Linked DNA regions of Homo sapiens: region 2 is linked to region 1. Evidence: fine-mapped expression QTL. Tissue or cell type: whole blood. Region 1 holds a variant in brackets; the other region holds the start of a gene. Each region is shown on its reference strand, or each on the opposite one.

What was found. PIP is the estimated chance that this variant, and not a neighbour inherited with it, causes the effect. A credible set is the group of variants that fine-mapping cannot tell apart.
Region 2: SLC38A11 starts here. The variant in region 1 is the best candidate, but not a certain one, in a credible set for the expression of SLC38A11 in whole blood (TOPMed, PIP 0.57).

What each region holds. Positions count from the first base shown.
Region 1 is chr3:188,287,299-188,292,686 of GRCh38, reverse strand. The region is part of intron 2 of LPP (LIM domain containing preferred translocation partner in lipoma); the gene reads right to left. Among named protein-coding and RNA genes, the nearest start is that of FLJ42393, 110 kb to the right of the region's middle. RefSeq lists a silencer at 1,752-2,046 and an enhancer at 1,752-2,046. The variant C/G (reference allele first, on the strand shown) is at 2,786.
Region 2 is chr2:164,953,321-164,958,708 of GRCh38, reverse strand. SLC38A11 (solute carrier family 38 member 11) reads left to right here and starts at 3,184. Exons shown (of 12, transcript NM_001351537.2): 1 at 3,184-3,500; 2 at 3,964-4,078. The coding sequence starts at 3,462.

The sequences.
Region 1 (5,388 bases):
ACCTATGTCAGGTAAACCATACTCTAGTACATGATGCTAATAATACAGCACTAGGCTTATTGGGTACCATGTGTGTAAGAGATTCAAAGGCATTTTCCAAAGAGAATTCAATCCTTCCCACCTCCCAAGCAAGTATAGTGCAGACCCTTAAGTCATCAGGAAACTTAAGAGCATATTCCATCCCTCTTGCTCTATATTCTGACGACATGTCCAGTCTTCCAGATAAAGGCACTCTGCAATCAGAACTAGATGTTTGAGTCATGCTTCTGTTTTTTGGAGTGTAGAGGTATTGACCACCTTAGATCCAACTCATGAAACAGATTAAGTTTTCACACAGTCCAAAAATAATTGATATGCTTAATGAGAACTTATTTCACTTAAAATTTCTACCAGCATGAAACCCTCTGTAATATGCCCATCCAGTTTGTACATCAGTAGAAGTGCTCCTCTTTAAATTCATATAGCAAGTTTGCACATCCTGTTTCCTAATTACCTCATGCAAAAAAGGAATTGTACCTTCACTTCTCTTGTTCATTAAAGCAAGGTTCACGAAATGCTTTGACATTTGATTTTTGAAAAACACATGCTGGTTTAACCGAAGGTCCTAGAGACTCATTGCTGTTTAAACTTGGGGAGAAACAAGATGGTATCAAATCACAGTTAACTTTTTAACTGATCTGTTTAAAGAAAATTAAAATGGGCATTTTTAAGATATATTACAACTCTATATAATCTGACAGTACTTGGTAAGAATTACCTCCTTACAATCAAATCAGGGTGGTGGAGCAGAAAGCACCCTAGAGTCAAATGTTCTGGGTTTGCATCCAGAACTGCTTTAAGAAAACTTATTTCACTTCTCTGAACCACAGATCCACCATTTCTAAAAGGGAAATAATGATAAACCCTGCCTTGCCTACATCATAGAGATGTCATAAAGCACACATAAGAAAATGGGTACTTAAGTGTTTTGAAAGCTACAAGCCCCCCACACAAGGTAAGGTATCATCTTAATGTCCTTTCTCTTTTTTTTTTTTTTTTTTTGAGACAGAGTCTCGCTCTGTCGCCCAGGCTGGAGTGCAGTGGCATGATCTCAGCTCACTGCAAGCTCCGCCTCCTGGGTTCACACCATTATCCTGCCTCAGCCTCCCGAGTAGCTGGGACTACAGGCGCCCACCACCATGCCCGGCTAATTTTTTTTTCTTTCTATTTTTAGTAGAGATGGGGTTTCACCGTGTTAGCCAGGATGGTCTCGATCTCCTGACCTCGTGATCCACCCGCCTGGGCCTGCCAAAGTGCTGGGATTACAGGCGAGAGCCACCACGCCCGGCCAATGTCCTTTCTTATAAAGACATTCTTAATGACATGAAAAACACTTTAGCCTTTCTGTTTATATTTTGAATAAGCCAAAGAAACATCTCAAAATCAACACTACCAATTCCAGGAAGTTTCACAAACACACACGCACACATACACACACAGGCTTTATAAAGATAATTGTTGTTTGGGACAAGAAGCCCAAGAAAGTAAAAGATTCTGAAGAATTGTTCGTCTTAGAGTTCACCTCAGCAACACATCTTTAAAATTAAGTATCATTCAGTGTATTCTTACTCTTTGAAGGTGGGTGAAATACATATGTTAGAATGTATTACCTTTCAAAAAGTGGTATGCCAAATTCCCACCCACCTCCTTCTGATGCTACAGAAACAGTCCAAGGAAGAGGTGGCCCCATTATATCAATGCTTTCTAGAGAAGAGGGAAATGGGAGAGAGCTCTGAGGACAGACCCAGGCATGTGCAGACTGAGGAAAGACAGAACTTGCCCGGAAGACACAGAAAAAATACCAACCAGCAGGCCACCTTTGACCAGTGAATTGACCCTCAGTAGCCACATGGCAACATTCCACTAGGGCAGCTTATCAAGGATGCGGATGCATTCCATTCCCCACACACTCTGTCATCTGAAGTTTACTCGTTCAGATAAACAAAGGTCAAGGACAGAGAAGCCAAGAACTTTTCCAAGGTCATTAGTAGCTGTGTAAATACAACTCCTATGTTCTAAACTAAACTTGCTGATGCTCTTGGAGTGAAGAGGCCGGGAACATGAACAGTCCTAAACTATTCACTGTGTACCTGTCCTTCTCGGTGGCTGTAGTATAATGGAATAGTAAGTGCTACCACTGAAGCACGGCATGCTGTGTGCCAAGCATTGTTCTACATGCTCTACGCATTCTAACTTTGTTAATCCTCACAAGGACCCTATGATGTAAGCCCATTTTATAGATGAAGAAAGTACAGCACTAGAAGTGAAGTTGTTTGTCCAAGGTCACATGATATTATGTGGTAGGATGGATCCAAACCCAAGCAATGTGGCTTCGGCATCTGTCCCTAAACAGTACACAAAACTGCATGTTGAACCGGGCATGGTGGCTCACGTCTGTAATCCCAGCACTTTGGGAGGCTAAGGCAGTCAGACCACTTGAAGTCAGGAGATCGAGACCAGCTTGGCCAACATGGTGAAACCTCGTCTCTATTAAAAATACAAAATAAATTAGTCGGGCATGGTGGCATGCGCCTATAGTCCCAGCTACTCGGGAGGCTGAGGAAGGAGAATCACTTGAACCCGGGAGGCCAAGGTTGCGCCACTGCACTCCATCCTGGGCGATAGGGTAAGACTCCGTCTCAAAAAAAAAACCCTGCATGTTTATGAGCACTTCCAAGATAGGGTGAACTCCCACCATGAACTAGGTACCTTTGCAGACACTCACATACATTTTGTAATTTATTCT[C/G]ATTATGATATTGAGAGAAAGATTTTATAATCCTTTATTCACAGGAAGACACCGAAATCCTAAGAGGTCCTTAAATTGAGGATTTTACAAACACTAAGAAGCATAGTAGGGTTTGAACACCTGTCTGATTTCAAGTTCCATTTTCTCTCTAAACATCCAGGTTCTGCATGAGTTCTGAGGTTCTCTAATCATCATTAGCACTATCTGTCTACGTATGTACCTGCTTATTCGTTTTTTGCCAAGTGGTACCATGAAAAAAACATGTGTTTACAGGGAGACCACAGCAGTTCTACCACTTACCAGCTGAATGACTTGGACAAGTTACTTAGTCTCAATTTCCTCATCTAATGATGAGAACAATAATAACAGTACTGACTATTATCTCAGATCATATTTCATATGATTGTTAAAAAATTACATGAGATGATGTATGTAAAATACAAGAGTGAACATCACATAAGTGCTCAATATTTAGTCAATAAATAATTGAGTGAATTTAAATTTCAATGATGTAACATAAGCAAAAATCCTACTAGAGTTCCTGTTCTAGAATATTCTGTCAAAACCAAGAACATTATTAATGTATCGTTAGTATCCTCTCTAATAGTTTAAACATGTCTTGGGGCTCATAGCCACGTCTGAGCTAGTCTGTAAAACACACAGTGGCCAGCACAGAGCCTTGGATTTTAGACGTGCTATGATTCAATGATTGTATGATCTTTGTTTGAATTTACTGAGAAAAGAAAATCTAAAATGCTAAAATAACTCCTCTCAAAGCTTAGAAGCTTCAGTTGTCCATTTTCACTCAAAACTTTATTCTCAATTTGAAAATTATTACCCATAATTGAAGCCTAAAACCCACTAAAAGGCATCAATTTAATGTTATTTATTTCTGATACATTTCCTAAGAAATAAGGAAGAAAAATGATTTCCCAATCTCCATATTTTAAAATCTTATCTCTATCTTCCCTACAAAAACTTATAACATCATTTATTTTGTTCCAGGTCCTTAACAGATGGTAATCACAAGTGCTTTCCTGATACAGTTGCTAGCTAGAGGGGCGGGGGGGTGGGGGTGGGGGGTGGGGGGTGGAGAGAGAGAGAGAGATTGATTTTAAGAGGCTATTTGGCATCAAGAGAAGTTCATGTGGCAGAAGTATTTCAACCCGGACATCAAATGAAAAACAAATGCAAGAGTACATAATTAACTTTTAGGAAAAGAAAAAGTATGTATGTATGCATAGATGTGTGTGCATAGGTGTGCACGTATGTGTATAGACAGGTGTAGATACACAGATCTGTGTGTATGTGTGTGTGTGTGCACGTGTACATATGGAAAAGGCCAAGGCTCCACCAGGAGCTCTGGACAACGACGTGAAGGGGAGCAATGCTGAGACAGGACTGGAGGCTGGAAGACTAGTTTTTACACCTCCACTTTGCCACTCAACTGCCTCATCTGGAACAAGTCATTTCAACTTGGTTTTCTATTTCTAAGAATGGAGACCTCACGGGACTGGTGTGAGGTTTGAGCAACAAACGAGATCTGAAAGTGTTTTGGAAATGTGTGTACAAGCATAAAGGGACGTTACTACCCGTTTGTTCCAATGCCAAGGAGAGCAACTTTTTGTCTGAGCCAATGTCGCTCACAAGTGGAATCTATTCCCATCACAGCCTGCTTTCGGCAAAGGAAGAAGGGATGTGGACAATTTTCCAAAGAGGCAATGCTTTCTAATTTCTCTATTATTTCCAAAACAAAAAAGCCAAATCTTTCTCCCACTTTTGTTTTTCAAAATAAAAATAAATTATAACCCTAACTTGCTAATAAATGCAGGCTGGAGCTGTCCTTAAGTAAAAGCTTTTGATAACAAATTGCCTGCACTAAATGCTATTTTACTGCTGATTTTTTTATTGTTGCTTAAGCACAGCAATTATGCTAATAAGCCTGGGAGGATGGTACATCCAGCATTGAATCTGACAGATAAAATACTCAATAAAATGCTAATCTCACCTGAAAATTGGAATCAGACAGCCTTATTAGTATTTATGAATATGGCATCTTAAACATGTTTTTTCAGAGATGAATATATATGAAATCAATGTTGTCTCCTAATACAGCCTGCCATTTCTAGGCCTCTATGTGCTCTAAATTCAAGGTGACGATTACTCCTTGCCTTTACTTAGCTTCTTGCCAGAGAAAAAAAGAACTTATTGGCCATCACTACTACATAAAGAATGAAGCAATAAAATGCTTCTTTTTTTCCTTCATCCACCTTCCTACCTCTCTCCTCACCCCACCTCCGCCAGTCCCCCGAAAAAGGGAAGGTAAGAACTGTCTGTCTGAGCAAAGAAAGAAGGCAGATTTGACAGCAACGAGAACCATTTGTCAAACCATCTGGCTTCTCTCTTCACCTGACAGGAGGGAAGAGTGAAGTGTCAGAAAGAGCAGGGAATTGAGAATCCAAAGAGCTGGCTTTTAGTCTTGATTTTGCCATTTCCTCGATGTGTGACCTTGCCAGACCTCAGTTTCTTAAATAGAGACCTTCTGGAGCCCACTGTTTATGTCTCTATGAGAAGCCTCCATGGGCTGCATTAACACACGGGGC
Region 2 (5,388 bases), not on the chromosome of region 1:
TTAGAATATTTTTTCTGATTCATGAATAAGGTATATCTCTCAATTTATTTAGGCCTTCTTTAATGTATCTTGATTGTTATATTTTTCTTTGAAGAGATTGTGTACATTTTTCTCTTTGGTTGGATTTATTCCTTAGTATTAGATATTCTCTGACACTATTATATATTTTTTAATTACAATATCTAGTTGTTTGCTGTTGCTGTAGAGAAATTAATATATTTTTAGTCTAATCTTATACTAATCAGCTCTCTAAACTCTCTATTTCTAATTTTTTTCTCTTAGATTATTTTGGATTTTTCTATATAAACAATTTTATCATCTAAAAATGATGACAGTTTTATTTTTAGCTTTCCAATTCTCATACCTCTGATTTCTCTTTTATTTCTTATTACTTTAGGAACTCCAATATCAAGTTAAATAAAAGTCACAATCATTGATTTTTTTCACTTCTGATTAAATGGGAATGCTTCCAAAACTTCCCCATAACGAAAATACTTTGCTATAGTTTATCACTATCAGGAAGTTGTATTATATTTTTGATTTACAAAGTTTTTTTAAAATCAAGAATTCAACATTATCAAGTGTTTTTCCTGAATATAGTGAAATAATAACATGGCTTTTTCTTACCTGCTAATGTTGGAAATTATATTTATAAACTTTTTGTTAACTAAGCCATCCTTTCATAGTTGGACTATATTCAACTTTTTTATGATATTGTTAACTTTTCGTGAACAGACAGATTCAATTTGCTAATATTTTCCTTGGAATTTTTGCATATATATATTTTTGAGTAAAATAGGGTTATAATTTTTCCTTCTCAATGCACTTGTATCAGGATTAAGATTACTAATATTAAAACTGTAACTTCACAGAATTAAAAAAAAATTTGAAAGAGAGAAGATGGGAGAAGATATGTACAAAACATATAACTGACACAGGGTTGCCACCCCAAATATATAAATTATGCTTACAAATCAATAGAAAAAATTCACAACCAAAATCAAAAGAGCAAAAAAAAATGAAATTCACAAACAGAACAATGGAAATATTTAATTACTATATAAAAGATCTTCCACCTCAATGTAAATTAGGATAAAATACAAATCTATACAATAATTATACACCACTTAAAAATCCAGCAGAACAATTAAACTTAAAAAATAGATTAAGTAAGTCCTGGTGTTACAGACAATGTAGAAAAACAAGAATTTCACCTCTGTTGGTAGAAGTGAAATTCATGTTATCAATTTGCAAAGCAATTCAAAAATATTTAATGAAGGCCAGGCACAGTGGCTCACACCTGTAATCCCAGCACTTTGGGAGGCCGAGGAGGGTGGATCACCTGAGGTCAGGAGTTCAAGACCAGCCTGGCCAACATGGTGAAACCCCATCTCTACTAAAAATACAAAAACTTAGCCGGGCGTGGTGGCAGGCACCTGTATTCCCAGCTACTCCTGAGGCTGAGGCAAGAGAATCATTTGAACCCAGGAGGCAGAAGTTACAGTAAGCCCAGGTCACACCATTGCACTCCAGCCTGGGCAACAAAAGCGAAACTCCATCTCAATAATAATAATAATGATAATGAAGTTGAAAGTGTGCATGACCTACTACCTAACACTTCTACATCTAGAGAAATTGTCACTTTTATGCTCTGGAAGAGTGTAAAACGAGAAACAACCTTAATATCTTTCAGTAGGGGAAGGCTGACTTAACTGTTAGATAAAATGAAAAAAAAATCTGCATATATCTACATCATACATGCTGAAAACAAAAATGCCAGTGGAAAAATAACATGTACAATATGGCACCATCTTTGTAAATGTTGAAAATACAAAAGCCAATGTTATATATTGTTTATGGCTATAAATGAACGGATTAAAATACAAAGTATGAATAGCAAAGATAACACTAACTTGATGAACCGATGACTCCAGGGCTGAAGGCCTGGGGAAAGGAATGGAGAAGGTCAAGGGGGTTCCTATTGTGACATTGTGTTTACTTTTACAATTTGAAGAAAATATGACAGCATGTTAACATTTGATGGCAGAGTGTATATAAAGTTTATAAGTCTTTTGTTTTCCCACGGTTTTTAATTTTTTTTCTTAATTATAAGTAAACATGTATGAAACAGAACCTCTTTAATTAGGTACAGTTGGCCTCTATATCCCCACTTCTGCATCCATGCATTAAACCAATCCCAGATCAAAAATGTAGTTAGGGCTAGGATGGATGTGTCTATACTGAACACATATGGACTTTTTTCTTATTTCCTAAACAATACAGTATAACAACAAGTAAATAGCATTTACATTGTATTAGGTATTATAAATAATCTAGAGATGATTTAAAGTATGCTGGAGGATGTGCCTAGGTTACATGTAAATACCATGCTGTTTACTATCAAGGACCTGAGCATTCCTGGATTTCAGTATCTGCAGGGGTTCCAGAACCAATCCCCTATGGATATCAAGGGAAGGCAGAATTTGTTAAGTATGATGGCATATCACCGCTCTTATTGCCCCTGAAACTGTTGTCTCATGCATTCTGTCTCTGATATTGAATACTCTCTGGGCTTGTTGCTTCATCTGTAATGTAAGAGGACTGAATAGGTGGTCATTGAAGATTCTTTCTAGCTCAGGCACTGTAGGTGCCACCCCTTTCCCAAACCCTTGTACTCCTCTTTCCCTTTTCAAGGTTCATTACCTGAATGCAGTAACAATCCACCTTCATTTTCTCTATCGCTCCTTTTTCTAAAAGTTACCAGGAAGCGTTTGACCAAAGCATGCTCAGTAGTCAAGTTTGCTAAAACCCTAGGAAAGTTTTTTGTTTTGCTATTCATTTTCTTATGAGTCTTTCCATTTCCATTTACAATAAAAGTCCCAAATTTTCACTCGTCGTCTCTGCCATTGAAGAGGGGTAGCGAGGAGGAGGTGCTAATAGGGAAGATGGCCCATGGGCCCAAGGGTGCTTCTGCGTTCTTACCTGGGCTTCAGACCCCAGCAAAGGAGAAGCTAACTTAGGAACGGACTGCAACGAGGCGGTCATAACTCTGTGAGATCGGGGCAGGGCAGCGTGGGTGGAACAAGTTGTCCTCTGCAGCTCCAGGGAAGAGTAGCTCTCCCTGTTCTCTCAGGGAGGCGGGGGTGTGAAGGGGGGAGGCGGGGAGACAGGGCTGCCCGGATCAGAAACATCCTGCAGCATCTCCGTCTCCGGAGGAAAAATACATTTGTCTGGGCGAACTCCGGTGGAAAAGCGCCCCAGGCTGCCACAGCCTAGAGATCTTGGGGCTGCAGCCCTCGCGGCCTGCCGAGGGAGCAGGGGGCGCCCGTGGAACTGGCTCCCTGCAGCTCTGCGGCTACACGCGGACCTCGGCTGTGTGCGAGGTGGCGGAGGAGGCTGGCCGGGTGCGAATCCGTACCCAGCCCCAGCATCTTCCACCTGCTGAGGACCACCGCTCAGCCATGGGCTACCAGAGGCAGGAGCCTGTCATCCCGCCGCAGGTAAAACTAGCGACTAGGCAGGTTCTGAAGCCAGTTGTCCGGAAATTTCATTCACCTTGCAACAGGTCAGGTCACCTACCTTCACCTGGGCTCTTGGTTTAGCACCGCGAAAAGTTCTCTGGGACAAAAAGTTTTGCCTTAATCTGACTTTTTTTTTTTTTTTTCTTAGCAGGCACTTTAATTTCACAAAATCACATCACTGAATTCCTAACAGATCCTGTACTTAGCAGCTGGGGCAGCTGTAATCTGGAAATTTTAGGATGGAGTTTGCTTACCAAGCTCTGTTGAATTACTAGCTGTTATTGTTATTCTTTATTACTGTTATCCCGGCATTTATTTTATTTTCATTAGTGACATTACTTATTATTACTAGAAAATCGTGTTAGTATCCTGCATTACATATTTGTTACTTTTCTAATTTTCTGAACTAGTATTTGCTTATAATTGCTATTTTATCTATTAGAGAGATTTAGATGACAGAGAAACCCTTGTTTCTGAACATGAGTATAAAGAGAAAACCTGTCAGTCTGCTGCTCTTTTTAATGTTGTCAACTCGATTATAGGATCTGGTATAATAGGTAAGTGTATTTGCTTTGGTTTAAATTTTAAGTGAAAGGGCAAAATTTAAGACTCGCTACGCTGCTAGTGTTCATTAATTATTTTTAAAGAAAAAAAGACTTAAATAAGAAAATTGGTAATTTTCTTCCATAAAAGGCTTCCTTTTTTTCTAGTGTAACAGTATGTATGCATGTCTTTTATGCTGAAGATGGGGCTGTAATTCACACTGTTTCCACAGTTGAGAGCATCTTCCACATGTGGTAGATTAAGGTGAAACTGCATATGGGTGGTGGTGAATCATTTTTCTGTAGGCTGCGTGGTTGATTGCTAGTGTTACCGAATGTACTTTTTCCACTTACTGAAGGGTCCATCATTATTTGAATCATCTTTCTTTAACTTTCTAGAAGTATAAAACTTCCAGATATTTGTAAATGTTGGAGGTGAAAAGTTTAATATGAAAACATACCAATCTTATGAAAAATTAAATTCATACATTCTTTACCTATCTATACAGTGTTAAATTTTAAAGTACAAAATTATTACAATATATTAATTTTAAATATTATTTAGTCAACAATGCAAATTTGTTCATTGAAAATGCGTATTATTTTCCTAATAAAGGAGCCATACAATCAGAATTAAAATAAATAAATAGCTCAGATTTTTCCATTGTATTAGAAGCAAGGGAAATTTACTGAAAAAAGTTAAAAGTGCATTGCATTATAGTAATAAAAGCAGCTATATTTTCAGTGGTTATTATTCTTTTTGGTATCTGAAAACACTCTATCTCAGAAAAGACAAGAAGAAAACAAAATCCTGCAAAATGCAATACTTTTTGAGAATACAATGTTTTATAAAGTTGCAACATTTTTGTTTCTGTCATCACCTTCTGAAAATTAAACATTTATCTGGATTGAGTTACTTTTCTTACTCTTGAATTACTTTTCTTACTTTTCACAAGTTAATATGGTTCTTGATTTTACATTTTTCTATGGATAGTCTTTTTTTTTTCTCCAAATGATACATAAAATGGAGTTACCTGAGGTAAAGTAGAAGGAAACAGGGACAAAGACTTGTTTACAATTCTACCTCCATGTACCATGAAGGTATGAGCAGCTGTACTTAGAAGAATTCTAGAGCTAATTCCTGATGTGAACGTGTTAAGTTAAGCCGTGTCAGCAATGCTAAACAGTACCACTGCTCAGCAGCTTGTTTTCTTTTCTTTAAGGGAAAACTTTTCAGAGAATAAAAATTTTGACTGGAAATACGTTAACTGTGTTTGTTTTAAATATTTTATTGTCCATAATCTAAAGTTGTCAATTTCCCCCAA